7 linked regions of the Homo sapiens genome follow. The protein of the gene in region 6 purifies or fractionates together with the protein of the main gene of each other region. This does not show direct contact. Each region holds a gene or a part of one and is shown on either strand. Other genes may lie near its edges.

Evidence for each region.
Region 1: the proteins of IQCF1 (region 6) and MUL1 purify together in Homo sapiens (affinity purification with mass spectrometry; 2 studies listed by BioGRID and IntAct, with this or other methods). This does not show direct contact.
Region 2: the proteins of IQCF1 (region 6) and C5orf34 purify together in Homo sapiens (affinity purification with mass spectrometry; one large-scale study listed by BioGRID and IntAct). This does not show direct contact.
Region 3: the proteins of IQCF1 (region 6) and HEATR1 purify together in Homo sapiens (affinity purification with mass spectrometry, with the first as the bait; one large-scale study listed by BioGRID). This does not show direct contact.
Region 4: the proteins of IQCF1 (region 6) and INTS1 purify together in Homo sapiens (affinity purification with mass spectrometry; 2 studies listed by BioGRID and IntAct, with this or other methods). This does not show direct contact.
Region 5: the proteins of IQCF1 (region 6) and HEATR6 purify together in Homo sapiens (affinity purification with mass spectrometry; one large-scale study listed by BioGRID and IntAct). This does not show direct contact.
Region 7: the proteins of IQCF1 (region 6) and MZT2B purify together in Homo sapiens (affinity purification with mass spectrometry; 2 studies listed by BioGRID and IntAct, with this or other methods). This does not show direct contact.

Annotation. Positions count from the first base shown.
Region 1 is NC_000001.11:20,502,050-20,505,151, reverse strand, and holds part of MUL1 (mitochondrial ubiquitin ligase activator of NFKB 1), read left to right. Parts: intron 1-1,842; coding exon 1,843-1,930; intron 1,931-2,962; coding exon 2,963-3,083; intron 3,084-3,102. UniProt on the Homo sapiens protein: Exhibits weak E3 ubiquitin-protein ligase activity. E3 ubiquitin ligases accept ubiquitin from an E2 ubiquitin-conjugating enzyme in the form of a thioester and then directly transfer the ubiquitin to targeted substrates.
Region 2 is NC_000005.10:43,490,829-43,495,060, forward strand, and holds part of C5orf34 (uncharacterized protein C5orf34), read right to left. Parts: exon of another isoform or gene 4,050-4,232; intron 3,774-4,049; coding exon 3,682-3,773; intron 2,785-3,681; coding exon 2,715-2,784; intron 2,063-2,714; coding exon 1,892-2,062; intron 1,482-1,891; coding exon 1,387-1,481; intron 1-1,386.
Region 3 is NC_000001.11:236,555,788-236,560,019, reverse strand, and holds part of HEATR1 (HEAT repeat-containing protein 1), read left to right. Parts: intron 1-182; coding exon 183-306; intron 307-884; coding exon 885-1,025; intron 1,026-1,490; coding exon 1,491-1,783; intron 1,784-2,674; coding exon 2,675-2,825; intron 2,826-3,761; coding exon 3,762-3,920; intron 3,921-4,080; coding exon 4,081-4,215; intron 4,216-4,232. UniProt on the Homo sapiens protein: Ribosome biogenesis factor; required for recruitment of Myc to nucleoli. Involved in nucleolar processing of pre-18S ribosomal RNA. Required for optimal pre-ribosomal RNA transcription by RNA polymerase I.
Region 4 is NC_000007.14:1,497,508-1,501,739, reverse strand, and holds part of INTS1 (integrator complex subunit 1), read left to right. Parts: intron 1-1,373; coding exon 1,374-1,570; intron 1,571-1,718; coding exon 1,719-1,856; intron 1,857-2,107; coding exon 2,108-2,267; intron 2,268-2,379; coding exon 2,380-2,485; intron 2,486-2,578; coding exon 2,579-2,765; intron 2,766-2,887; coding exon 2,888-3,033; intron 3,034-3,186; coding exon 3,187-3,328; intron 3,329-4,232. UniProt on the Homo sapiens protein: Component of the integrator complex, a multiprotein complex that terminates RNA polymerase II (Pol II) transcription in the promoter-proximal region of genes.
Region 5 is NC_000017.11:60,071,690-60,075,921, forward strand, and holds part of HEATR6 (HEAT repeat-containing protein 6), read right to left. Parts: intron 2,198-4,232; coding exon 2,057-2,197; intron 1,591-2,056; coding exon 1,475-1,590; intron 641-1,474; coding exon 526-640; intron 1-525. UniProt on the Homo sapiens protein: Amplification-dependent oncogene.
Region 6 is NC_000003.12:51,900,349-51,905,229, forward strand, and holds the start of IQCF1 (IQ domain-containing protein F1), read right to left. Parts: upstream 3,006-4,881; 5' UTR 2,925-3,005; coding exon 2,922-2,924; intron 2,742-2,921; coding exon 2,637-2,741; intron 2,477-2,636; exon of another isoform or gene 2,445-2,476; coding exon of another isoform or gene 2,442-2,444; intron 1-2,441. UniProt on the Homo sapiens protein: Involved in sperm capacitation and acrosome reaction.
Region 7 is NC_000002.12:130,188,033-130,191,747, forward strand, and holds the end of MZT2B (mitotic-spindle organizing protein 2B), read left to right. Parts: intron 1-474; coding exon of another isoform or gene 475-554; exon of another isoform or gene 555-1,692; intron 1,693-2,436; coding exon 2,437-2,594; coding exon of another isoform or gene 2,595-2,659; 3' UTR 2,660-2,695; downstream 2,696-3,715. UniProt on the Homo sapiens protein: Required for the recruitment and the assembly of the gamma-tubulin ring complex (gTuRC) at the centrosome.

The sequences.
Region 1 (3,102 bases), on a different chromosome or scaffold from region 6:
TTTAACCCACATAAAAATCCTGTGAAATTGCATTTTCCCTGTCCTTTATGGTTTTGGAACCTGAGACTCAGATAAATGAAGTTGTCCCAAGTCACAGTGGATGCATTGGCGCTAGATTAAACTCCAGATCTTTCTGATCATATTCTCCCTCTTCCCCCTTTAAAATTCGAATTGGCCATCCTGTGGTGGATACTTTACTAGCTGTCTCACTTTGGGCAAATCACTTCACCTCTCTGAGCCTGTTTCCTTGTCTGTAATTGGTGATAATAATGTCTACCGTAAAGGGATGGTGTGGGCATTAAGTGGTTTATGCATTTAAAGTGCCTAGCATATTGCCTGGTACATAGTATATTTAAATGCTTACTTATTCATTAATTTATTAATCAAATAATGTATTAAATGCTTGCTGTGTGTCAGGCACAGTTCTCCGCACTAGGGGGATAGCAGTGAACAGGACAAACAGTGTCCAAGCCCTCCTAGAGTTTAACATTCTAGTGGAGGGAGACAGATAATGAGTAAATTGTTAGTTGTTATTGCTGTCATTTTGGTATCTTCACAGTGTAAGTGGCTAAGAAATTTTGATTGACCTTGCTCCTGTCACTTACTGTGTAGCAGTAGCTTAAACTCAGAGTGACCTTCATATACATCTTGTATCACATCACCTCTTTAGAGGTTACTGAATCTGGCATCCTTAAGAGTTGTTTTTGGGAATACCCTGAAAGCAGAGATGGTCCTTTATTCGTCCTGAATCTCTGACACCCAGCACAGTGCCTGGCACAAAGATGCTCAGGAAATGATTGTTGATTTTATTCCTTTTCTCTTATTTTTGAAACAGCAGTAACAGGATTGGTTTCCCAAGTGCAGTGGGTTGGACGCTCTGAGTTGGAAGGCAGAGGAGAACTAGGGATTGTTAGAGGAAGACAGCAGCAGAAAGAACCGTGCTCACTTAATTATGAGCATGAAAAAGGCAAAAAGTAGAACAGACTGGGTGCGGTGGCTCACACCCGTAATCCCAGCACTTTGGGAGGCCGAGGCAGGAGGATCGCTTGAGCTCAGGAGCTCAACACCAGCCTGGGCAACATTGGGAGACCCTGTCTCTGCAAAATAAAAAAATTAGACAGGTGTGGTGGTGCATGCCTATGGCCTCAGCAACTTGGGGGCCTGAGGTGGGAGGATCACTTGAGCCTGGGAGGTTGAGGCTGCAGTGAGCCATGATTGCACTACTGCACTCCAGTCTGGGTATAACAGTGAGACCCCATCTCAAAAAAAAAAAAAAATGTAGAATGGCATTTGGCACCAGTTAACAGTCTTCCTGTTGAAGCAAAGGCAACTCCCCCTGCTTTGTTTTTTTAATAACATACAATGCAGAGCATTGGTTCGTAAAGATGTGGTAATATTAATAATAACACCTACCAGTTCTCAAACCACTGCCATGTGCTAGGTGATAGGTTAGGTACTTTATACCTGAACCCTTTGGATCATAGCTCTGTGTTGTCAGGAAGAGATTGAATGATGTTCAGTCTGTGGTATGTAAATTGACTAGTACCTTTTATATTTTCACTAAAAAGTCTTAACATGAAAAGGAGTATAGGTTTTGGTTAACTGGAACAAGAATGTATGTGGCACCCCCATTCTGCAGTGATGGAAGAGGCAGAGGCATGGCTCCATTCCTGTTGATGTACACAGCTTTGAAATCTGATTCTCAGTAGTCACCTTCCTGTCCAATTTCCATATTCTCTTGACACGAAAAAAATAGAATCTTTTTCTTTTTTTTGCCTGTAAGTTTGATTGAGCATGTCAGTGTTCAATGGCCAATTAATTTAATTTTTTTTTTTTATTTAGGGAGCTAAAAAAGTTCATTTGGGTGAAGATTTAAAGAGTATTCTTTCAGAAGCTCCAGGAAAATGCGTGCCTTATGCTGTTATAGAAGGTATGTTTGCTTATTGGTCAATGGAAAACAACGTCTTTTTCCCAAAAGATTGATAAAGATCATCTTGGCTAATATGAAGAGCCTTTTGTGGTGTTGGGTCCATGGTCCAGAACATACTTTGGGGTCAGAAAGACATGGGTTATTGCTTTGTGATCGCTAAGATTACCAAACCTCCCTGAACCACTGTTGCCTGATCTCGAAAATAATACTTACCTTTATGGGGTTGTTATAAGACAAATTATGTGATCCATGCAAAGTGCTTAGGAGAGTGCTTCTAAAATGTGACTTATGGTGATCAGAATGTCATTGTTTTGATGAATTAGCAAAAGTCAACTGAAAACACTTAATTTTTAACATTTTTTAAATTAAAAAAAAAATTTTTTTTTGAGGCCAGGTGTGGTAGCTCATGCCTGTAATCCCAGCACTTTGGGAGGCTGAGATGGGCTGATCACTTGAGCTCAGGAGTTTGAGACCAGCCTGGTCGACATGATGAAACCCCGTCTCTACTAAAAATACAAAAATTAGCTGGATGTGGTGGCACATACCCGTAATCCCAGCTACTCGGGGGGCTGAGGCAGGAGAATTGCTTGAACCCGGGAGGCGGAGGTTGCAGTGAGCCAAGATTGCACCACTGTACTCCAGCCTGGGTAACAGAGTGAGACTCCGTCTCAAATAGAGTCTTGGCTCTGTCACCCAGGTAGCTGTAGTATGGTGGTGTGATCATAGCTCACTGCAGCCTCAAACTCCTGAGCTCAAGTGATTCTCCTGCCTCAGCCTCCCAAGTATCTGGGACTACAGGCACATGCCACCACACCCTGCTAACTTTTTAATTTTTTGTAAAGATGGAATCTCACTGTGTTAACCAGGCTGGTCTCAAACTCGTGGCCCCAAGTGATCCTTCTGACTTGGCTTCCCAAAGTGTTGGGATTATAGGTGTGACCTACTGTGCCAGACCAGAAAACACATTTTAAATTATCTGAAAGGAGAGGGCAGAAAACTTCTTCAGAAATAATAGAATTTGTGTCCACTTAGGAGCTGTGCGGTCTGTTAAAGAAACGCTTAACAGCCAGTTTGTGGAAAACTGCAAGGGGGTAATTCAGCGGCTGACACTTCAGGAGCACAAGATGGTGTGGAATCGAACCACCCACCTTTGGTATGTATCACTTCTCCAC
Region 2 (4,232 bases), on a different chromosome or scaffold from region 6:
TAAAGAAAAAATGTTAAAGTGAAGCATTTACTGGGCAATTCTCAAAATATTTTTCACTGGTCATAGAAAAGCCAAATTTTTTCCATTATTCATCAAGAATAAAATGATTTACTTATATTTGTGATTAATACAAGTGACATTTAAGAATCAAAATAAAGGCGATATTTGGATTTCATTTAAAGTTCAATTTTAAATGTTCTAATTCTTTTAGTTTTTCAAAGTAAAATGCGTTTAAGTTTTATCAAAAAATATTCACACAAAATAAGACTGACTGAGCATTTGCTTACTAAAATTTAAACCAAAAAACACCTGCTAATGCATATACACATATGCTTGTATGCATATGTGTAATTATATGTAACTTACTACATATCTAAAACAAGTATCAAGTTTAATAAAATGAATGATCTGAAATGATTGGCTGAATCAATAGAAATGTTTGCTAAAGAAACTATCTTTTTTGAGGCAAATCATTAATAGCAATGAATGAGCACTTAGACTGAAACACAATAAAACCCAACAGAAAAATACATTCAAGAGGTAACAAAAAGCTATTATTTTGTGAATATTCTCAAGTGAAATCACTAAAATGTGAAGACTATCACAAGATTTACTGTAATAAATTAGATAAACCAAAAGAAAAAAAATTCATAAAAAGCTGAAGACTCTTCCCCATTTTAAGATAATCATTGCGTAATTTTATCCACTTTATAGAAATATACAGAATTTCAGTTATTTGTGGTTGCAAATCTTATTTCAAATTGGCTAGAGGATTAGTTAATTGTTAACACAGCTGACCATATCCAACCTCCACAGCAAATCAGTATGTCTATAACACATTTCATTTTGAAAAGTTACTTGAATACAAATGAAATGATTAAAGCTGACCTGAAGGCCGGGCATGGTGGCTCATGCCTGTAATCTCAGCACTTTGGGAGGCCAAGGTGGGCAGATCACCTGAGGTCGGGAGTTCAAGACAAGCCTGACCAACATGGAGAAACCCCATCTCTACTAAAAATACAAAAATTAGCCGGGCATGGTGGCACATGCCTGTAATCCCAGCTACTCAGGAGGCTGAGGCAGGAGAATCGCTTGAACCCAGGAGGCGGAGGTTGTGGTGAGCCGAGATCGTGCCATTGTACTCCGGCCCAGGCCACAGGAGCAAAACTCTGTCTCAAAAAAAAAAAAAAAAAAAAAGCTGACTTGATCTATTTAGTTATGCTAAACACAAGTACAGCTATCAACTCTGAAACGACTGAAATGCCTTCATTATTATCCACATGGAAAAACTAAAAATATATATAACACTTAAATAATGCTTATTGCTTATTCTCTGTTAGTTAAAAGTAAAACATAAAAATAATTTTTAAAATTGCTTTTCAGTACCTTTCATATGGTTCAGGGTGTTCAATCTGAATTAACTGCTCTTGTCCATCAGGAAAAGTTAACTTACACCAACCTAAGTTAAGACCTTGATTTACCTGAAGAAGTAGAAAGATAAGTTTTATCATTTTAGAACTGAAAAAAAGAACATAAACAACCTATTCTAACTTCATTAACTTAAAGAAATAAGTAGAGGAATCATTAAAGATGCAACAGTTTAAATGTTGTTTACATGAGATATGGGTGTTATTTAACCACCACTCATATAGGTAATTATCAAAGCAAATGAAAATACTAATCCCTTTCTCTATAATCAGTTATCTTTAGAAAAGTGACTATTTGTCAAATCATTCTGATTTTTGCTAGGAAATCCAAAGAGATCAGTAAAGCTTCTTGACAGATTTTATACTTCAAAAAATGAACTGAAATAGTGTGGTACTTTGTTTTCTTTGTTCTGTTTTCCACAGATTACCAATAAAAAATAGATCTAAGTCTGAAGTATACCCACCTGTCTCTTCTCAATAGGAGAGCTGAAATTCCAATTTAGGGTTAGAGTAATGCCATCTAAAAAGATAGCATGTACTTTGTCATCAGAGTAGGCAAGAAATCTTCCCACACTGGGTATGAGTGACTCTTTCAAAACCAAAGGCAGTATATTGCTATCATTTATCCCAGGTACCTAAAACCAAGTAAATAAAAATAGCAGGAAATAGAGTTATCTAAGAACAAGATTTAAATGAATATTAATGACTCTAGGGCAATTTTGGATACTTATTCAGAAGTCAAATATTATAAAATCCTTATATTTTAATTTTTCCAGAAGTGGATACCCAAAACAGTCTTTTTTTCAAGCAGATTCAGTTATAATATATTTGTAAAGTCACTGTTCTGCTCTGAACTTTACATCCATTATAGACAAAAATTAGGAGCTTACAGGTTTGTAATTAAATGAATATAGATACAGAAATCAAAGTCTGAGAATCACTTCCTCCAAATCAGCATTAAGGAATTTATTTTTACGGTTATGAAAATATAGAACACTATAATATCATGGTTTATAATGACTAATGATTTTACATACTTCAAATCCAATCAGTTCCCCTATCCTTTCCTCTTCATGAAAAATAAGAACCATATACAATAAAACTATAACATAAAAGCCTGAACTTTCAGTGTTTGTCTACTAGGTAGGTATTTTTCTGAATAAACCAACATTAATGTTACAAGAATTTCTCACATGACTTAGAGGAAAACTGTTTGAACTCAGAAGTATGGATATAAACAATAAAACAATTTAAAAATATCTTGCTTTTAAAATAATTTTAACATACCATTTTCCAGCAGCATATACGATAGTTATGGCTTAAAGAAAGTCTCATCTTCACACAATGTTGAAGAATTCTGTGAACACAAAAAATACTACTTAAACATTTGCAAATGACATTTTCCAATTCTAGCAACCCATTTTCACTGCCATACAACATTTTAGATGATCAGTAAATCATTTTCACTGAAATGTGTTGGGAACTCTTTTTTTCTCCAGAAATCCTTAAGCCCCTAGAAGGGAAATACTGTTGCTTCCCTTTGTGCTAATCTTACCTACTTAAGGCTATTCCTTTAATTTTTAGCAATGAAATGATTCCATGGACAGAATTTTCAGGAACTCCTTTTTTAAGAGGTGATAGATTCACACTGCCTGGAAAGTTTCACATAGGCTAAAAATGGTAGGGATGTGAATCAACTATCCCTAGGAAATCAAATTACAGAATATGCTTCTTCAAATCTATTTTGGAAATTGCTTGTACATAAATTTATAAAAAGAAACAACAGTCCACTTGCATTCTTCTGGGTATCATAGATTGAGAGAATTTTAAAAACATATGAACCAAAGAACCAATCTATGCTTTATCATTAGTATATTTTCAGAAATCTATTACTCTGAAGATAATAAAGAAGTATAAAAATTTTAAATGTAACATCAAATCTCCAACTTGATTTCAAGGAACAATAATGATGCCACACTTATGCAAAGAAAGGGCACTTACTTCCTCTCAGCACTTGCTCACCATATATGGATATTTCTCCATATTTAAATTACAAAGCCAGAAGTAATCTTAATAAATGACACAAAAATTACCTTATTTTATAAATTATGACACCAAAAAAGTTGACAAATTTTACCGAAGGCATATATTTCCATTGTACCTGCCAATTCTTAATCTTATCCTTAATCACAAGAAAATGTGCCAAGATGTTTAGACACATAACATTTGATTCAATTGAATGGGAAGAACTTACCTTGTTGCCTGTTTAATTAGAGAACCGACAGTGAATGGACTTCCCGGTCTATCTGGAGGAAGGTTATTTACTGAGTAAGTTTTCTCTTCTCTCTGAAAATTAGTTAAAATGAAAAATTTCATTAATAATAAATTTTGGCCTTTATTACTTAGCTGCTTTTCCTTGAAATATGTTTTTACAATAGTGACAAGACGAGTAGTTATTTTAACAAAATAAAGCCCACAAAATCATGGTATTTTATGATGCTTTTTCATTTTCCCATTTTTTTTTTCTCATTAAACTTTTTTAACAGGTCTCAAAATTCTGTGACAAATTTTTGGTCAAGTTGTTTCCATTAAAAAGTACTGATTTTAAAAACTAATAACTTAAAACTACCACATGCAAAAAAGAAAACCAAAGTGGTCCACAAAACATTCTCCTTTCCTTCTGAAGGTTTTACGATGCATTGTTATCATTAACCAGTCTTTCACTACTAAACTTAAATGGCCAATTGAAACAAACAGTTCTGAGACCATTCTTCCACCACTGATTAAGAGTTGGGTGGCAGGTAT
Region 3 (4,232 bases), on a different chromosome or scaffold from region 6:
TGATGATCTCTGTCTATGGCAATAATCCCTCATTTCCTTTCTTTCCGAGTAGTTTTTGAAATAATTTAGTACAGAATTATTTAACTCGTCTTTCTACTTGAAACATTTAGCATAAGGTAGACATGAACAAGTTCTCTGAGTGCCTTCAGCTGCCGTTTGCTGAGCGAGCCTCTGTGTTTCAGGTTGCTGGAGACCGTTCTCGGCTATATCAGTGCAGTTGCACAGTCCATGGAAAGGAACGCAGACAAACTCACCGTGAAGTTCTGGCGCGCGCTCCTTAGTAAAGCTTACGACCTGTTAGATAAGGTAGGTGTTCATTTCTCCCTGGAATTACTGTTTTGTTGCTGTTTTTTAAATTATTGTGAAATTATGTAAAGTTTTTAAGAATAAACTTAGCAATTCCTTTTATGAATATAATGAAGCTCAGATTTTTCTTAGAAAACAATCTCTTGATGACTAGAAATAGATTTGTCTGGAAAAAATTGTTTCCTTACCAGTTATGAGAACATGTACCTCGTATATTTTAATAATTAAGTCATATAATATATACTGTTCTACTTTATTCAAGTGGAATAAAATAAAAGTATGAAGTATATTACATACATATCACTGGCCTCGAAGTTAGGATTGCTGATTCAAATCTAGCTCAGTCATTTAGCTGCATGCCTTTGGCACTTCCTCCTGACATCAGGCTTTTGTTTTGTTCGATAATGTGTGGTTGGTAATGCCTACCTGAAAGGTTATTTTAAGAATTAAATAAGAAAATGTGTGTGGAAGTGCCTGGTGCCTGGAGGTGTGCAGTGGACAGCAGTCTGTCTTAATTGAAGTTGGTTTTTTTTTTAATTTGTTTTTCTTTTCATGTTAAATATAAAATTTCTCTTTAGGTCAATGCCTTGCTGCCCACAGAGACATTCATTCCTGTGATCAGAGGGCTGGTGGGCAATCCCCTGCCATCTGTTCGCCGCAAAGCGCTGGACCTTTTGAATAACAAGCTGCAGCAAAATATATCCTGGAAGAAGACAATAGTGAGTGAAGACCCAGGACACACCCATTTACTGTACTTTGCTTTATCAAAGAGCTGCATTTAACTCCCTTCAATTTCTCTAGTGGTACAATTTCAAATTGAAGTATATTATTTTCTGAATATAATACCATGACATGTTTTAAAATGTGACGTTAATTCTAACGGGAATATATGTGTGTTGTAAGAGCTCTTAGAATGGAATTTCAGCCTAGTGGAATTCTTGCTTACTACAGAGCTTACGTGGCCTTAGCCTTAGCATAGTTCTAAGTCCCTTTTACTCCAGATCAGTGGGTGCTTTGTATAAGTGAAACACTGGCTAGAACATGCACATCGCTTAGCATGACTGTGTGACTCAGGACCCCCGAGTCTGATTTCCATTTAGACAATCTCAAGCTGTGACAATGGGAAAATGGACAAACATTTTTTGCAGCTTTAATGATTTGGGGATTCTGGCTGTCCCCTTCAGGTTACCCGTTTCCTAAAACTGGTTCCAGACCTTTTGGCCATTGTGCAGCGTAAGAAAAAGGAAGGGGAAGAAGAACAAGCAATCAACAGACAGACAGCGTTGTATACCTTAAAGCTTTTATGCAAGAATTTTGGTGCAGAAAATCCAGATCCTTTTGTCCCAGTGCTGAACACTGCTGTGAAACTGATTGCTCCAGAGAGAAAGGAGGAGAAGAATGTCCTGGGAAGCGCGCTGCTGTGCATAGCAGAGGTGACCTCCACCCTGGAGGCGCTGGCCATCCCCCAGCTTCCCAGGTATGCGGCCGGAGACTTGGAACAGGAGCTGTTACCGCCTGGCACACATTGAAAAATAACACTTTGGTGACTTTTTTTTTTTTTCCTCTGAGTAGACGTTGCATAAAATTGGAATTTGTTAAAGAATTGATCTTGCAGGGTGTGGTGGCTCACGGCTGTGATCCCACCACTTTGGGAGGCCAAGGCAGGGAGATCGTTTGAGCCCAGGAGTTTGAGGCTGCAGTGAGCTATGACTGCACCACTGCACTGTAGCCTGGGCAACAGAGTGAGACCCTGTCTCTTAAAGAAATAATAATAAAAATAATTAATCTTCAAACAGAAAGATGCAGCCTTCCCGTTTATCTTCAGATGCACTACTTTGCAGTGTTAATCGTCCTCCATTCTTCCTTCCTTTTGTCTAGTATAGTCAAAAAGCAGTGGGTGAAGGTTCTTGGCAGAGGGGCCCACCCAGTTAGGCAAGGCCAAAGCTGCCTTCTGCTGCCAAATTTGGAAGTTAGAAGCTCCTGGCTGTGGTAGTTCCTTACTGTACAGCCAGTATGTTCCTTAACCTGTTAGAGCTTTGCTGTCTATAAAACAGAGACAGTATCTACCTCATAGGATTTCTGTAGGGCAGTGCTTGCAAGGAGTTTTGCATAGTGCCTGACACATAGTAAGTGTTCAGTTAATGAAAGACATTGTTATTTTTTAAATTACTGTTGTGTCCGTACTGTTAGCACTGGGAGATTTCTTGTGCTTAGCCACATAAAATGTATAGACACTGCTTTTTAGGCTATGAAGCAGATAGCGATGTAATAGGCACAGTTTGCTGGTTTTTTTCATAATGCCCTCTACTCCATTCCCTAGCCTCTGTTTCTGCTTCAAGTTCTTCTAAAGCTCTTACTTTGTTTCTAGCCTGATGCCATCGTTGCTGACAACAATGAAGAACACCAGCGAGCTGGTCTCCAGCGAGGTCTACCTGCTCAGTGCCTTGGCTGCTCTGCAGAAGGTTGTGGAGACTCTCCCGCACTTCATCAGCCCCTATCTGGAAGGCATTCTCTCCCAGGTGAGCCACGATAGCCACGACATGCTACGCAGGGTGGCTGGGGAAGGTAAAAGATCACAAATGTAGTGATTTTGTTTTTTCTTTAAGGGTTAGTTTCCGTTTGACAGAAAGGAGTCTTATTTCTGAAGAGATGTGCTTGCTTTTATTAAATGTGTACTTTTTCTCTTCCATCATCCTTGCCACTTAATCTTGAAATTGATATGGGGGTCACTTTTTAGCGAGATGCTTCTCTTCTTTAATTGTGCGGAATGTATTCTGGCTTTTTTTTCTTCTGTGAGATCTTTGGAGTTGGGCTGGTAGAGCCGCCTTTTATTACTTGTGGAAATTGATGGGCCCTGTTTCTACTGTGAGAGGTATAATCCTAAGGCATCTTGCAAAGCAGAATTTTTGTATTGCACGTCAGCGGTTTCCTGTCAACACGCTAGGGGCCAGTGGTATTTATGATTGAAGATGCTCAAGAATGTTGAGACCTGGCTGTTCCATTGTGTTGATCATTTGCCATTTACAAGGTTAGGAGCCTTCATTACCATGGGGCAAATGATTAAACCGCTTCACTTACACCACAGCCAGGGTTTAAAAGTAGCCTTCTCAGAGAAAGGGGCCTGTGCTCTGAGGAGCTTTCTCAGTTTTTTAGCAACTTGACTCTTGCCGTGGTCCCTTGCATTCCTGTCCTCTAAGAAAATCATCTGTCTGGGTGCTGTGTGTGCGTCTGCGTCTACCATCGGCCTTCGTCCCTGATCGCAAGTTGGGCAAGAGGTGTCTGCCCAGTTTTATCCACTGACGTTTAGGGCTGACTTTAAAAGGAATTCTGTGTGTAGTTAAAAAGTGCTAAGCATTTTCCAAACACTAGTACCTCATCATGAAGCCTCTCTGTAAGTGTGTGTTTGTCAGCGAAGATCTGCAGTGGCCCTGATCACTTTTTTTATATTCCTGTAGGTGATTCATCTGGAGAAAATCACTAGTGAAATGGGTTCTGCGTCACAGGCTAATATCCGTCTCACATCTCTTAAAAAGACACTGGCTACCACACTTGCACCCCGAGTCCTGTTGCCCGCCATCAAAAAAACTTACAAGCAGATTGAGAAGAACTGGAAGGTTAGATCTTATTGGGTATTAAGACTTTGGAGAAGGGAGAGGTGGTACTGCAATGTGTAAACTTTGACTTAAAGAAGAAGATTTAGTTTTTAAAAATACACACCGCTGAACTCTAGGAATCATTTGAAAATGGCACATCTCTTTCCTGTGTTATTGGTAGAATCACATGGGTCCGTTTATGAGCATCTTGCAAGAGCATATTGGGGTGATGAAGAAGGAAGAGCTCACCTCCCATCAGTCTCAGCTAACCGCCTTTTTCCTGGAAGCCCTGGACTTCCGAGCCCAGCACTCTGAGGTAAGCTCAGGTTCACT
Region 4 (4,232 bases), on a different chromosome or scaffold from region 6:
GGTCGAGCCTCAGACCTCCCATGAGGCGTGTCCCTGGGCAGCTGGTGCCGGTGGGGATTGAAGACAGAGACCACAGGCCTCATCCTGGCCCGGGCTCTCGGCCGCCGGCGGCTCGGTGCTTTATTTATCTTTAGCACTACCTCCTGTAGAAAGGAGGTTTTGAAGATGAGAGGAGACGTGGTTATGAAAAGCGTATTCTGAGTGGTAGATCACTTTATAGTATTATTCTCAGCAAAACAGAGAGATGGCTGCATCCAGCCATTTGTGGTAAATGTCCCAGGCTGTCCCTCCATGCTGGCAGCCCACTTGTCCCCCAGCTTGTCTCGGCATCAGGAAATTTATTCCAAGTCTCTGTCCCGGGCGCAGTTAAGGTAGATCACAATGCCTCTGTCCACATGTGTGTGGATATGTATTTACTTATTATTTATTATTTATTTATTTATTTATTTTTTTTTGAGACAGAGTCTCGCTGTGTTCCCCAGGCTGGAATGCAGTGGCACGATCTCGGCTCACTTCAGCCTCCGCCTCCCGGGTTCACATGATTCTCCTGCCTTAGCCTCCCAAGCAGCTGGGATTACAGGCATGCACCACCACGCCTGGCTAATTTGTGTATTTCTAGTAGAGACAGGGTTTCACTGTATTGGCCAGGCTGGTCTCGATTTCCTGACCTCAGGTGATCCACCTGCCTCAGCCTCCCAAAGTGGTGGGATTACAGGTGCTAGCCACTGCACCTGGCCGTTTGTGGATATTTAAAAACACAGTCCTAAAAAACTGTTGGGACAGAGAAGAATCAGAATGAAAATGAGAAAACCTCCGATCCAACAGTGGCAAACACGACGATAGGAAAGGTGTGTGCTGGCCCTGGTGCTCCTCAGAGGATGTGGGAGGGTCAGGCACTCGTCTGGAGGAAGGTTGTGAGCCGAGCACCCATGGAAAGAGGGAGGAAAAGTGGGAAGAAGGGCATGCTGGAGACTGGAGCTGGGGTGGGTGCGGAGAGAGGGCCACTGTGCTGCGGTCCACAGTGAGAAAGAAGCCGCCAGACGGAGCCACGATTCAGTGGAAAGTAAAGCTGCAGGTGGCCTGGCTTGCTGGGAAATGTCTGTAGCCTTTGGGGTAGTCGTGTGGGACACAGCGGAGCCAGGACTGGAGTGGCTGGTGGGCTAGTGCTGAGGCCTGTGGGGCAGCCTGTTGTATTAAGGGGACCATCTGGTGGGGTGCTTGTCCGCTGTGGGAACTTTGCTGAGGGTGGATCGCTGGTCCCTGGCAGGGCCGACCCTGAGAGCTCTGGGTTCCTCGTGGTCTTCCCGGTGTCCCGAGGCTTTGGGGTGACCCTGCCCTGGCCCCGTTCTGACCGTACCGCCTGCCCCGGCCAGTGCTGCCCACGGTGCTGCTGGATGAGATCGAGGCGGCCGAGCTGGAGGGCAACGATGACAGGATCGAGGGCGTGCTGTGCGGGGCCGTGAAGCAGCTGAAGGTCACCCGCGCCAAGCCTGACAGCACCCTCTACCTGAGCCTCATGTACCTGGCCAAGATCAAGCCCAACATCTTCGCCACTGAGGGCGTCATTGAGGTTTGAGCCGGGCCCCTGGCAGGAGGCGAGCAGCGCTGGGGCCCTTGGCTCCCCTCCTCACCTCCCCCTTAAGTGTCCCTCCCGGCCCACCCCAGCTTTGCCTCTGGGGCCAGCGAAGCTCCCACGTGACATGCGCCCTCCCTGGCAGGCTCTGTGTAGCCTCCTGCGGCGGGACGCCTCCATCAACTTCAAGGCCAAGGGGAACAGCCTGGTGTCTGTGCTGGCCTGTAACCTCCTCATGGCCGCCTACGAGGAGGACGAGAACTGGCCCGAGATCTTTGTCAAGGTGAGCGTCCTCTCCCGGGACGGTGAAGATGGCAGAGCGCCACGGGGTGGGGCAGGGGCGAGAGAAAAGCAGAAGTGTGTTCTCTCCAGAGGGCTGTGTCTGACAGCCCTGGTGGTGATGGCACGGTCCCTGCTGCACCCAGAAGCTGGAGAGGGCCGCCTGGGCACCCAGTCCCCGGGCAGCAGGCGGGTGTTCCCCAACCTGGCTGCTGCCCGGCTGGGCTCGGGGCTGAGGGTGTGGCTGCCACACAGGTGTACATCGAGGACTCCCTGGGGGAGCGGATCTGGGTGGACAGCCCTCACTGTAAGACGTTTGTGGACAACATCCAGACGGCCTTCAACACCAGAATGCCCCCCAGGAGCGTGCTGCTGCAGGGGGAGGCGGGCCGCGTTGCGGGCGACCTGGGTGCAGGTGAGACACACGGCCAGCCAGAGAGGGCGGGTGTCCAAGCCCCAGGGCAGGGGAGGGGTGGGAGGATGGGCGGGTGGGAGGCGCTGCATGGAGCCCTCTCCTTGGTTTGCAGGGAGCAGCCCACACCCCTCCCTCACGGAGGAGGAGGACAGCCAGACGGAGTTGCTGATCGCGGAGGAGAAGCTGAGCCCCGAGCAGGAGGGCCAGCTCATGCCCAGGTAGCTGCGTGCCTGCCCGGTCCCAGTTGGGGGCGGCGGGGGCGGGCGCCTCGGGGCCACCTTCCTCCCTCCTCGCTCCCTCCTCTGGCCTAGGTACGAAGAGCTCGCGGAGAGCGTGGAGGAGTATGTCCTGGACATGCTGCGGGACCAGCTGAACCGGCGCCAGCCCATCGACAACGTCTCCAGGAACCTCCTGCGGCTCCTCACCTCCACCTGCGGCTATAAGGAGGTGCGGCTGCTGGCGGTGCAGAAGCTGGAGATGTGGCTGCAGAACCCCAAGGTGCGGGGGCGCCCCGGGGGGGTGGGCGGGGCAGGGGGTGGGGGCAGGCTCTGTGTGGCCCCACAGCGTGGTCTTCCTGCCGGGGTGGCCGTGAGCCCACTGCTCCCTCCTCGGCCCCGCAGCTGACCCGGCCGGCCCAGGACCTGCTGATGTCCGTCTGCATGAACTGCAACACGCACGGTTCCGAAGACATGGACGTCATCTCACACCTGATCAAGATCCGCCTCAAGCCCAAGGTCCTCCTCAACCACTTCATGCTGTGCATCAGGTGCGTGGCGAGCCGGGGCAGAGCGGGGGTGCGGGTGGAGTGGGGGTGTGGGTGGGGGTGTGGGCGGAGCGGGGGTGCGGGCGGAGTGGGGGCACAGGCGGAGTGGGGGCACAGGCGTAGCGGGGACAGGGTCTGTACCCTCACCTCACCCAGGGAGCTGCTGAGCGCGCACAAGGACAACCTGGGCACCACCATCAAGTTGGTGATCTTCAATGAGCTCTCCAGCGCCCGGAACCCGAACAACATGCAGGTCCTCTATACCGCACTGCAGCACAGCTCAGAGCTGGCGCCCAAGGTAGGCCCAGGGTCCCTGGCCTTGCCCTCCACGCCGGAATATGGGGCTCTGGGCTGGAGGGGCACGTGGCGTCTGGGGAGGCCGGTGGATTGGCAGTGCTTCGTGGGAGAATGCTCCTCGGTCTCGGGAAGGAGCTTTTGAAACTCACGTGGGCATGAGGTTGAGCCGTTTCTAGAGTGGGTGCAGCCACAGCGCCCAGCGTCTTTCTCAGAAACTGACACTCTGTCCATTTAGGAGGGAGCCACATTGAGTCTTAAAAGCCACCCAGGTTTCTGAGCTAAGACCCAGACCTGTTGCCTTCTGTTTTTATTTTTCAAGCTCATTCCTGCCTTTGGATAGTAAGGTAGTTTTTAAAAATTTTGTGGAGACCGGGTCTTATTATGTGGCCCAGGCTGGTCTCAAACTCCTGGGCTCAAGCGATCCTCCTGCCTCAACCTCCCAAAGTGCTGGGATGACAGGCATGAGCCCCTGTGCCTGGCCCAGACCCGCCTCCTGTGCATTGGGTCCCTCGGTTAAGCAGGGGTCCCTGTAGCCCTGGCTGTAGGACCCTTGGATTTCCGTGTCTCCTTTGAAGCGGGCTCGGGAGATGCTCCCATCGCCACCAGCGCATTAGGCCTCCCGGTGGGCTCTATGGAGTGTGAAACACGAGGGAGGCACAGCCGCTCTCAGCTCCGCGTTCAGTCTTCGCGGCCTGGCATTTTGAGACAGGAGTGCGTCCTTTCAGATCCTTTCAGATCTTGGGTGGTGGCCTTTGGTTTCCGTTCAGCCCGTGGCGCACGGGTGGGCTGAGATGGCACACGCGCTTCTATGGCTTTGCCGCCTGGTGTCCCGCACCCCCAGCTTCCGTTAATTAATCCTCCTCATTTCACGAGGACCGACTCCCCACCTGCCGGTTCTCAGAGAG
Region 5 (4,232 bases), on a different chromosome or scaffold from region 6:
CACTTAAAGCTGTAATTATGCTCATTTACATATAGAAAAAAAAATCTGAGGGCACACAGCACAAATTGTCTTCAGTGGCTATATCCGAGCAGGAGACTAGAAGGAACTTTATCTCAGCTATATAACATTTGAAATGTGTTACTCTAAATTTAAAAGATGTTAATAAACTGTCGTTTGCATCGTATTTTTAAAAAAGAAATAAAATATTGCAGATATATTTGGTGAAATCTCTCTTTACTTTCATCTTAAAGATAGTCACTAGCCTGCAACTATTGCTTTTATACTCAGAAGGAAAAAGAATAGTTTCCTCTAAAAATCTAGAATTGCAAAATATAACAAATAAAAAGCTTCTTATAATTTAAACCGAAATGGTATGATTTTAGTCTTTTTAGGTTACAAACATTTCATATATGTGTATTTCTCTAGACGAAGCTAATGGTGCAAATTAAACTCGTTAGTAACACTTTTCCAATCTGCTTCTAGACACATCCGCAACATTCACTACGTCAATGATAGTCCACTTACCATGCAAAATGTGATATCATCCATATCAGATGATTTTGGAGACTGTAAAATAGTCAGAAAAGCTTGGAAACAGACATTTTGGTAGGGCTCCTCCAAATACGGCTGTCCTGGCACACTAAACGCATACAGAGAAAACAACTCAAACTCAGTCTCCTTTAAAATGAGGCTTGCAAAAGACTAATTAAAAATAGCAGTAATATAGACTATTAGAGTTGGAATATACCCTTGAGTGCAACTATGCTATGGAAAATTATTATTTTGGTTAATTAGTTACTGCTGGGGGACAGGCACAGGGCTAGAATGAATATAGAGGAAGGGTGGTTTCCATACAGAAAGGTTACAGAAGTTTGTGGTAGAAGAACTATGGAGAAAGAAAAATCTTGTTTTAGTTCTGCTGTTCAGTCCTAGGAGGGAAATAATCCAGACAGGTCCTGTCAAGCTAGAATCACACATCTGTACCTGCCTTCCTACTCGCTGGACAGCACTGTGCTATGCAGAGACGAGTTCACATTTGTGCTGCTCATTGTCTACTGCCTACTGTGAGAATCGAGGGTGAGCAGCTGGGGCTGTTTCCATCTTCTTCAAAGAAAAGAAATTGCCCTTTACAGATACATCTCACCAGCACTTAAAATTTGCATGAATATATCCTTCTAAAAACTTAATATGCTTAGAATTTATATCAATAGAAAACAAAATTTTGACATACTGCACATTATGTCACTATTACCACATTTTAGGAATATGGTCCTAGTCTATTTTTTCCTTCTTTACAAGCAATACTAAAATTAACAAACAACATAAGATGATTTTATTAGTAAAGTACATGGGAAATGCAAAGTTAGTTATTTGTCTAAGTTGGCTCTGGCTTCAGGCACAGGGAACTACCTACAAAGGGCCCAATAGAGGCACTATCTTATTACCATTGAGAAACTTGACTGGAGCCACATACCTGAGACATAAGTTTGCCATACAATGTACTGCAGCTCTCCTGACTTCAGGATCAGACTGAGCCAAGTCACTCAACTTCATTAAGAGTCCGGTGTTGCCTAGCAGCTCTGGGAGGTACTAAGAAAAATAAGAGTCAATGTAGGTCAAAGAAAAGCTTCTAGGAAAATATTATGTTTTAGACAGATTTCTTCTTTCTTTTTTTAACTAAATGGCAGTTAAGCACCAAAAGACTAGCTGTTAGATAAATGTCTCCGATGGATATGCAAAGATATGCCAAAAAGCATCAATAATGATCATTACTCCCAGCCTAGGTAGCTGCTGATGCTCTTTAGTGTGGCCGTATGGCTGATGGGTAATGATAATATTAAGAATAATGTTTACTATTTACCGAGGGCCATGAACTTGACACGTATTGTCTCACTTCATCCTCAGAGTAACTATTTTATACATGAGGAAACAAGGCCCAGAGTGGTTGAATAAGAATTGCTAGAGATTAGTGGCAAGATAGAAACCTGAACACAGTGTTGGCACCAGAGTCTGTGCTCCTGGCCTTTCAAAGGAAGGATAAAGCACTTTAAACTACCTTTTGACATTTGGAGCCATTGCAGTACACCAGAGCTGCCAGGGCTTGAAGAATTTCCCTGTGTGTCCAGGAACTACACTGATGAATAGCCGAAATAGTATATGCCAACAGGAAATCCAAGTGCTGTTCATCAACAATTACCTAACAGGACAGGAAAAGATATATTCTGATCTAACTTTTAAAAAATATTATGCTTTTATGGACATGTATGCTCACCTGAATCAAGCTGTATAAAAGAGAGAGTGTGTGTCTGTCGTTTATGTGTCAAAAGGATCACCTCTAAAGGGCCTGAAAGTTTGATCAACGTAGGGGCCTTCTCCCCACCCCAAGGTCTTGCTCACTTCTTCCTCTTTAGTAAAGTAGAACTTGATGAAGTCCTTGTAACTTTTCCTTGAACTAACCAGACATTGGCAGCTGTGAATACACAGATATGAGTATTTCAACGCACTGAAATTTAATTAAACTGCCTTATACATAATAAACACTCAATGAATACACAGTGAACCAATATAACTGCTAAATACCTACTGCATCTCTAACATGACATGAGGAATACACCATGAAGAGAGGGCATATCCCTGCTGTCAAGGAGCTGATAATCTTGTTGGGACAGACCAGGCTAATCCAAGTGTCAATTTATGGACAATTGAGACAAACTGTCACCAAGTGCTGGAAAGCTGGTAAAGGGTTATAGGTGCCACAGGTGATCAGGAACATCTCCAATTGCCAGTGTTACAAAGATGATACACCTGAGAATAGTAAACATACAGAAGCTACCTCATGTTAGTTTCAAAGATTCTAAACTGAAAACAGCCTTACTCCATGCAGCAGACACTGTTGGTTACCTACTAGCATCCATTTCTTCCTTCCCTGCTGGCAGAGTACTAATTTAATTGGATGTCCACCTCTCCCATGTGAGACCTAAGGGTAAACGCTAATTAGTTTAAGAGAGTGGGGCAACCTGGGGCAACCTTAACCCCCAAGGAACATTTGGCAATGCCTGTATACATTTTTGACTGTCACAATTGGAGAGGTGCTACTGGCGTCTAGTGGGTAGAGGCCAAGGATGCTGCTAAACATTCCACAATGTGCAAGACAGCCCCTAAAACAATGATCTGAGCCAAAATATCAATAGTGCTGAGGTTGAGAAACCCTGATGTAGGCTAACTGTGGCTGCACATTGTAAGCATCAAGGGAGCTTAAGTCCTCCTCCAAGTGATTCTAATGTGTAGTGAAGGTTGAAACTACTAGCTGGAGCCATTCACAATAAGACCATCCTCCTGCTTAAAGACTGGTTTAGAGAGGTATTTATATGACCTAAGTCTCTCCAGCAAGATATTGGGGAGTCTACTAGAGAGTTCATGGGACACGTTTCCTTACTGTTAAGTACAAGAGACACAACATAAAATAAAGTTAATTAGCTTCTGCTGAACAGTAATCATTTCTTTGGCATGGGATGTCCAGAATTGGCACAGCCATCTTATGACTGTGAGACATGCTAGCTGAGGATAACCCACATGCTGAGGACGGTGAAGGGAAAGATGAGCCTCTTATTATTAAGGGGCTACAGATGCGTCCCTTGGGACTTGGGACATGGAGTGATTCCTTTTTATTTTTTTAAAAATTGTTTAGTGACTCTGGGATGGCTTTTCTGCTTATTGCAGCCAAAAGCATCCTAATTCACATAATGCTAGTTGATATGTTTTGTGCTCTTAAATATATTCACATACTCATGTGGTAACAGTCTTAAATAAATAACTGGGGTCTTTTTATCCTGCTGTCCCCTTGGCCCCAAGCTACTTCTTATATTTTAGAAGCATCAAAAGTAGACCATAAAAATGGTAGCTTCAGGAAAGGGGAAAAATATTGGTGGGAAAGAGGCAGGGGATTATTTCAATTTATTCTTAGATATATTTTGTTCAAATATATCTTCCATAAGAAATTATAAATTAGCCGGACGTGGTGGCGGGTGCCTGTAGTCCCAGCTACTTGGGAGGCTGAGGCAGAAGAATGGTGTAAACTCGGGAGGCGGAGCTTGCTGTGAGCTGAGATCGCGCCACACTCCAGCCTGGGCAACAGTGTGAAACTCTGTCTCAAAAAAAAAAAAAAAAAAGAAATTATAAGGTTGGGGGGCCTGAATGATATTGGTTTACTGAACCAAACAGAAAGGCATACT
Region 6 (4,881 bases):
AACTCTCTTTCATCTATTCTATTACTCTTTCTTCTTTCCTCGCTCTATTGCTGACCATCTAGTTATTAACATAACCAAGTCAATTTCACTTCAAACTATTGCATTTGATGCTTGCCTTGTTATACCCTGTGGGGACTTGCCAAGTCAAAGACAGCTCTCTACTTCAGAAAAGTACCTCTGTCCCTCCTGACTCTCCTCAGACTGGGTATTAGTGAATTGGGACCATTTAATCCTGGGAGATTTTGATAAAGACCCCAGTGTCAACCAGGAGTCTTGCCCCGCGATGTAGAGCTTTTATACCATAGTTGGTCCAGGGTTCTGTGGACCACTAAAGAGCAAGGATGGACTGCCCCAACCGGTTTTTGTAATTTCCTAAAACCATACATTCATCTTACTAGAGGGACAGCCCCCGCCTCCCACTAACTGTCAGCTAAACCAGTGCAATCCTATACAGGTTATTACCTTGAATCCTCAAAGTTCTTTCCCTTTTCTAAGCCAGTTCCCTTCTTTAAGCCAGTGTTATGGTATGGGGGCTGAGGTTTCAGGGACAGACCCTATTGGATTCTTTGAAATGCATTTCTTTGAACCCCCACCGCCTGCACCTTCCTCTAAGCCTTCTTCCAAAACCTCTCACATGGAACAATTGCTCCTCCTCCATCTAACAACAAGACCAAGATAGCTATCGTAGAAGCGAAAGACTTAAAACAAACTTTGGCAATTAAGACAGGATACCAAGATGCAAATGTCTGGTTGGAATGGATCAAATATTCCGTCCGCACATTAAACAAAAGCAATTGTTATGCTTGTGCACCCAGCAGGCCAGGGGCCCAGAATGTCCCCTTTCCACTAGGGTGGTCCTCCAGTTGACTGGTTGTGGGCTGCATGGTAGCTCTTTTCCAGGATTCTACAGCCTGGAGTAACAAGTCGTGCCATGCTCTTTCTCTCTGCTATATTCTGAAGTCTGGCACCCTGTGGGTCGGCCCCCGAGGGTCATCCAGCTTCCATCTCCCAATACTAAGTTCACTTCATGTCTCTCACGACAGGGAGGAAACTTAGCATTCCTTGGAGACCTGAACGGATGCAGTGAGCTTAAGAATTTTCAAGAGCTTATCAATCAGTCAGCCCTTGTTCATCCCCGAGGGGATGTGTGGTGGTATTGTGGTGGACCTTTACTGGACGCTCTGATGAATATCTGAAGTGGCACTTGTGTTTTAGTCCAATTGGCTATCCCTTTCACCCTGGCATTTCATCAACCAGAGGAAGGAAAAATAAGACATCGTAAAGTGAGAGAAGCCCCTTATGGGTCTTTTGACTCTCACATCTATTTAAATGCAATTGGAGTCTAGCAGGGAATACCAGATCAATTTAAAGCCTAAAATCAAATAGCTGCAGGATTTGAGTCAATATTTTGTTGAGAGACAATTAATAAAAATATAGATTGAATAAACTACATATGCTACAACCAACAGCGATTTATTAACTACACTAGAGATGGTGTTAAAGGAATAGCTGAGCAATTAGGGGCTACTAGCCGGATGGCTTGGGAAAATAGGATAGGCTTAGACATGATAATAGCAGAAAGAGGAGGAGTTTGCCTCATGATTAAAACTCAATGTTGTACCTTCATCCCAAACAACACTGCCCCTGATGGAAGTATAACAAAGGCATTGCAAGGTCTGACTGCCCTGTCCAATGAGTTAGCCAACAACTCAGGGTTAAATGAGCCCTTTACAGGATGGCTAGAAAAGTGGTTCAGTAAATGGAAAAGAATTATAGCCTCAATTCTCACTTCCCTGGCAGCCGCAATGGGTGTATTTATTCTTGTTGGGTGCTGTGTCACACCATGCGTCCGTGGGTTGGTGCAAAGAGGCTCATAAAAACAGCACTTACTAAAACCTCCCTTAACTATTCTCCACCTTATCCAGAGAAGCTTCTTCTTTTGGAAAATCAAGCAGAACATCTAAGCCAAGACATGTTAAAGAAGTTTAAAGAGAAAGAGCTGTAAGGAAATGCAAGAGGAGAAGTTGTTAGGTATGAGTTCTAAATTTCTCTTCAAAGAATCAGTATGTCAATATGTTCAATTCTTTGCCTTCTACTTTTAAACTTAACTTCCTTGTAAAGCAACCTTTTTCAATTACCTGCTCCGCCCTGACTCATTCTGATTACCTACTCCCCCCTGACTCATTCCGATTACCGGCTCCACCCTGACTCATTCCAATTACCTGCTCAGTCTCCACCCTGACTCATTCCGATTTCCTGCTCCGCGGTAACCATTTTTCCCACCAAACCACTCACCCCATCACTCTCTTTAAATTAGCCAATCAGAATTAGTTTAGCCTGTGTGGTCTAACCCTAGCCAATAGGGGAATGACACAGCAGCAGGGGCCACGTGCATCAGGGATAAGAACCCCTTCCCCTCCCTTGTCCAAGTGTGCACTCACCATTGCTCCATCTGTAAGGGCGCACCCTTCTATAGAAGTACCTTGCCTTGCTGAGAATTAAAAAGAAAATTTTATATTTGAGTGCTATTTCTTTTGCGGCACAGAAACTTCACTTATAACAGCACCATGCAAAAGACACTAGCTACTAGCACTAGGACATGGGATCAATGACATCCAAGTCAGGGCTCCTCCTACCTCTGCCTTTGACTCTGCTCCTAAGGACAAATGGGTTGGCATCTCCTTCTGCTGAGGCTCATCTTCTTTTGAGGGTTCCTTCGTCTTTTGGGGCTGCTTCTCCTCCTGCAATCAGCATTAGGGGAAAGGCAAGAGTGAGGCTGCGGTCCCTCCCTCTCCATTCAATATGGCACACATCCCCAGCTTCCAGGGCTTCTTAGAGTCTTCAGTGTCAGGGGGTCCCTTCACCCTGAGAGATCTATGGGGACATCCCTAACAAGCCTGGTGTGTCTGGCTTTCTCTTACCATTGGTCACATATGGATTGATTGTAGATGGTTCAAATCCCCTCACATCTGTGTTCATCCAGCCATAGCATAGGCAGGAAGGGTGGAGGAAGAAAGGCCTGTGATGTCATAAGGGCACCTGTGACTCAGGCACCAGATGGCTCCTAACAAGTGAGCCCCCTCCAAGGGAAAGACAAAAGCGCTGCCCATTCTTTTCTGCCAGAAATGGCCAAAGCCCTGACTTCAAAGGCAAGATGCCAGAAATACTGGCCCATTGCTGTAAGGTTTATAAAAAGCCAGTCATTTCTAATAACATTTAATTGAAAAAACTTGGCCAGGCGCAGTGGCTCAGGCCTGTAATCCCAGCACTTTGGGAGGCCGAGGCAGGCAGATCAACTGAGGTCAGGAGTTCGAGACCAGCCTGGCCAACATGGCAAAACCTTGTCCCTACTAAAATTACAAAAATTAGCTGGGTGTGGTGGCTGTCACCTGTAATCCCAGCTACTCAGGAGGCTGAGACAGGAGAATCGCTTGCACCCAGGAGGTGGAGTTTGCAGTGAGCCAGGATCATGCCACTGCACTCCAGGCTGGGCAAGAGAGCAAGACTCCATCTCAAAAAAAAAAAAAAAAGAAAAGAAAAAACTTATATAGCCAACTTAAATAATCAATAGGGGATTAATTTAATGATGCATAGTTCATTCATACTATAAAATACTACATAACTATTAAAAATAAGAATTTGATCTATATTACTAATGAGGAAATATATAAAGATGTATTTATAAGTAAAAAACTAAAGTTCCTTTTGATCCCACTATGCAAACAAAACTAGGAACATAATTATACACATAAAATTGAATAATTTATGCCAGAAGTTATTACATGATACACATTATATGTTGTAAATGAATATAAAGAAGAAAAAAGGTATATATACCAAACTATTACCAATGATTACCTTTGGAGAGGAGAGTTAAATTGCTGACTCATGCCTAACACAGTCCCCAAGGAACCCCATGAGGGCCTGAGGACCAGCCTGGACTCCATCTGAGGCTCAAATGGGTCCAAGTGCTCTCCTGTCTTCCTCTGTCCCTGGGGTCTCAAGGCCACAATCAGATGGATGAAGGTGGCCACTGCACAAGCATGGCCCCTTTCTGCCTGATCTCGGCCTCTGAAGACCCAGCTGGACAGGGTAAGGCCATGAGAGGCACAGCCCCTGGGGTCACTGAGAAGTGCACTTGAAATGTATAGGGTGAGTATGGGAGAGGCCAATGTGGATCTGTAGGGGGAATGTAGGGAAGAGGAGGAGGCCATTTGAGGCTGGGATGTGAAGTTAATGGGATGAGGGGGTGGAGAATATGGGAATACATTGAAAGATGTGGGAAGTTGTGGGTGTGATATAGTTTGGCTCTGTGTCCCCACCCAAATCTCATCTTGAATTTTAACTCCCGCAATTCCCATGTGTTGTGGAAGGAACCTGGTGGGAGGTGACTGAATTATGGGGGCAGGTCTTTCCTGTGCTGTTCTCATGATAGTGAATGAATCTCAAGAGATTTGATGGTTTTAAAAATGGGAGTTTGGGCTGGGTGCAGTGGCTCATGCCTGTAATCCTAGAACTTTGGGAGGCTGAGGCGGGAGGATCATGAGGTCAGGAGATCAAGACCATCCTGGCTAACACGGTGAAACCCCGTCTCTACTAAAAATACAAAAAATTAGCCAAGTGTGGTGGTTGACACCTGTAGTCCCAGTTACTGGGGAGGCTGAGGCAGCAGAATGGCATGAACCTGGGAGGCAGAGCTTGCAGTGAGCTGAGATCATGCCACTGCACTCCAGCCTGGGCGACAGAGCAAGACTCCATCTCAAAAAAAAAAAAAAAGGCAGTTTGCCTGCACAAGCTCTCTTTGCCTGCTGCCATCCATGTAAGACGTGATTTGCTCCTCCTTGCCTTCCACCATGATTGTGAGGCCTCCTCAGCCATGTG
Region 7 (3,715 bases), on a different chromosome or scaffold from region 6:
GACTCAGTCTCTAAACCCCCCTCCCCCACCACTCAAAAAAAAAAAAAAGCATTATTTGCTCTTTTCTGCTTCCCTCTCATCCTTGTTTCCAGAAGGGACTGGGTCATTGCTGAGGGGAGGAGAGGAAGCTCAGATGGCAGCAAGCTGAAGGGAAGCCGACTCTGAGTCAGGCCCAAGTCTGCGGCCTGCCATGCTGCGTGCTGTGGGGAGCTGAGAGCGCATGGGCACCTAAGCACCCAGATTAGGCTGCGGCTACAGAAGATCTGACTCTGTCTGGCCTGGCCTGCGGAGGGACTGTGGCCTCAGAGGAGGATGCTGGCCCAGTGTGGGAGCTGCTGCAGGGTGGCGGGGCCCGTCTGCTCATGGAAGACAGAATCCTTGCCCCTTGACCAGTCAGTGGGGACTAGAATTATGGCAGTTTGTACCACAAGAGATGCGTGGTGGCTATTGTCTGCTTTGTGCCTTTTTCACGAGTCACTGCTGGGCTGAGGTGGCCAATCATCACCCACCACGTGTTCCTGACTGCGCTCCTCCTTGGCTCAGGGCAACCCTGACTCCATCTTTGTTGAGTCAAGTGTGACAAGCTGACAGAGTTCCAAGCATGACACCGCTGTAACCCTCACCACCACCAGGCAAGAATGAGCAAAGATCTCATTCTCTGAGGAAGAACTCCCCGGAAACTCAAAAGGAGGGCCGTCCTATCCCTGCAGGGTATGGGGAGAATTTTCTGGTATTAGCATAGAAAGGGAGCTGGAGGTACCTCTGGAAGAGCGGGGGTCCACGGCATCTCAGACACAGGAGTCTCTGCTTGTTCAGGGTGACAGATGGTGAAACAGAAATGACCTAATGGATCTCTAGACACCCGGTTGCATCTTTTCTCCAGGAATCCAGTTTCCCATTGCAGGGTATTTGACTACACTTGATAAGAGGCCAGGGAAGGACCAGGATTGAGGCTGGGTGTTCTGTTGGCTGAACCCTTGTCTGGAGTCACCCTAAAAGTGATGGCAGGGGAGTTCCTGCAAGGGACTGCCCCAAACCTTTCCAGGATGAGAGCCAGTTGGGATTCCAAAGGAAGAAACACTTAATGCCAGGGTGGTCAGTCCAAAGCATTTGTTAGGGAGCTTACATACAGAGGGGGCTGCAGTGTACCCTCACGAGGGACAGCCAGGAAAGAGGTTGTGCCTAGGCACACCGCACTGAGGGGGTGGGGTGTGGAGTTTCTATGAGGGTGCAAGGAATTTGGCTGGGGTGGGACCAGTTTCCACGTGCTTAGCAACATGTCAGATCTTTCAGTGTTCCAGGCAACAACCTAAACGTGTATCAGTGTCTGGTAACATGCAAGCCCCAGCCAGGGTTTGAGCCTGCAGGGGGAACATGTAGCTGATTAGGTCAGAGTAGTCAAGGCACTTCCTCAGTCAGGACAAAGGAAACACTGGGGGGATGAAATGGGGGACCCAACACTGAGTCAGGCAGGGGACACATGCCCTGTTTAGAGCCCACAGGCCAGACCCTGCCAGGCCAGAGCAGGGGAGAGCCCTGGCCAAGGCACTCCACATGGGGGTCTGTGACCCCACGGGCAAGCCTGCTACCCGGGCACGTTTGTACCTTGGAGGGTCCTCTCAGTCTTGCCGATGCTGTCAACACCCTGAGCCCAGGGAAATCCATCCCATTAAAATAAAGGTCTGGCCCAAGTGTGGTTGCAGATTTTTCTTGGCTATCTTAAAGAGTAAAGTAAGCAAATTACAAATCAAAGAAACTCTGAACCAGTGGTCTTCATCCAAGAGAGCCTCTGGTGGTCAGAAGGAAAGTCTCAAGCATTCAGACTGTGGCAGGAACCCTGTCATGGAATCTGGCAGCTAAACCCGAAAGCAAGAGGCTTGACCACTGCAGAACACTCGGGTAGGTAGGAAACAATGAAAGAGCTTCCAAAATCAAAATCAGAAACCCAATTCCAGGACTTGGTGACTGCAGTACTTCCTGCCTGTCACCATCTAGGGCAGCTCAGATGTGCAGTCCAGCATGAACACACCTTGAGGATGAGGCAGCGCATCCCTGCTGCTGCCGCCGCTGATGGCACCATCAGGGCAGACTAGGTTTGCTGACCAGGCTAGGTGTGGACCAGCACACCTACCTTTCCCTAAATGGGCCCGTGGCATGTGTCCTTTCAAAATGTTCCCTTGGCAGTGTGCTCCTTGCATGGCTTTGCTCCTAGGACACATCCAAAAGGGTCCCCTGCACACTGCGAAGGGCTTCTGGGGCGTGACCTGTCTTTAGTGGTTCTGAGTCTCAGGACTTGGGGCTGATGCAGGGCCTCTAGCTGAAGGGACTTTGATGGAAATGTGCAGACACAAATGTTGCCCAAGGACCACGAGTACAGCAGGTGCTGCAGTTACGGGGCACGCCCATTCCTAATCATTGTGCTTTGTGTCTCCTCAGGGAGAAACAAAGGCAGCGCTGCCCTCGGGGGAGCATTGGCCCTGGCGGAACGCAGCAGCCGCGAAGGATCCAGCCAGAGGATGCCACGCCAGCCCAGCGCTACCAGGCTGCCCAAGGGGGGCGGGCCTGGGAAGAGCCCTACACGGGGCAGCACCTAGGATGGGGCAGAGACTTGTTGCATCTTTGTCCCCAGCAAAGGCTACATGTTACCTCCTTCAATTGATAATAAACCTTTCTGAGATGCAGAGGGTCCAGGTCAGATGTTGTCTACCGTTTTTTTTTTTTGTTTTTTTTTTTATATTAAGGCACACTTAGAATGAAGTTTCTGTGCCGGTCCTGGTTGTGCCACAGTGAACTAACCAGGTCCCTTCACCATGGGTCAACTTCCTGAACCTGATTTGGGTTCTGAGAAAAGGCATCTGGATTGCCAGGTCTTTTATAAATAGACGTCAACAAGCTTCACTTGAAGTGAAATGTGGGAGGTTTTTTTGGTTTTTTTGAAATGGAGTCTTGCTCTGTCACCCAAGCTGGAGTGCAGTGGTGCGATCTCGGCTCACTACAAGCTCCGCCTCCTGGGTTCACGCCATTCTCCTGCCTCAGCCTCCCAAGTAGCTGGGCCTACAGGTGCCCATCACCACGCCCGGCTAATTTTGTTGTATTTTTAGTAGAGACGGGGTTTCACTGTGTTAGCTAGGTTGGTCTCGATCTCCCACCTCATGGGAGGTTTTCTACCAAGGCAGTTGACAGTGCTGAGGGACAGGGTGGCTGTGTGTGCGCACAGAGGGCGAACGCTGCCTTCCAGGTTACCGTGGAGCACTGGGGTCAGCATGGGTGTGTTGTGACCTTCTGTGGGTCACGAATGCTGTGTGGAACTCGGTTAATATTCTTTCCCCCTCTAAAATGTCCTGACCTTACATATTTGACCCACAGCTTTAGAGACTTCATGGACAAGCCCCATCCACAGACCTCCAACACTTCATGCTCCCTTTTAGCCAGCATGACCCATCAATAAAGAAGCCCGAAAAATCACAAATTCAGTTGAAAACCCTGACTCAGCTTTCCTAGAATTTAGGAAATCTATACATTGAACGCCTGGCTTTGAAGAAACACTATTTTCCCCTGGTCAGGTTACTTCTGTGGCAGCTGCTTATGTACAGTCCTGCTGCACCCAACCCCACGCCAGCAGGGCAGGCTGGCACCCCACCGCTGTCCATGCAGGCTCTGGGGTCCCACCAGCTCCTGTAGGCAGAGCTAAGCTGCATGACACTCAGAGGTCTTG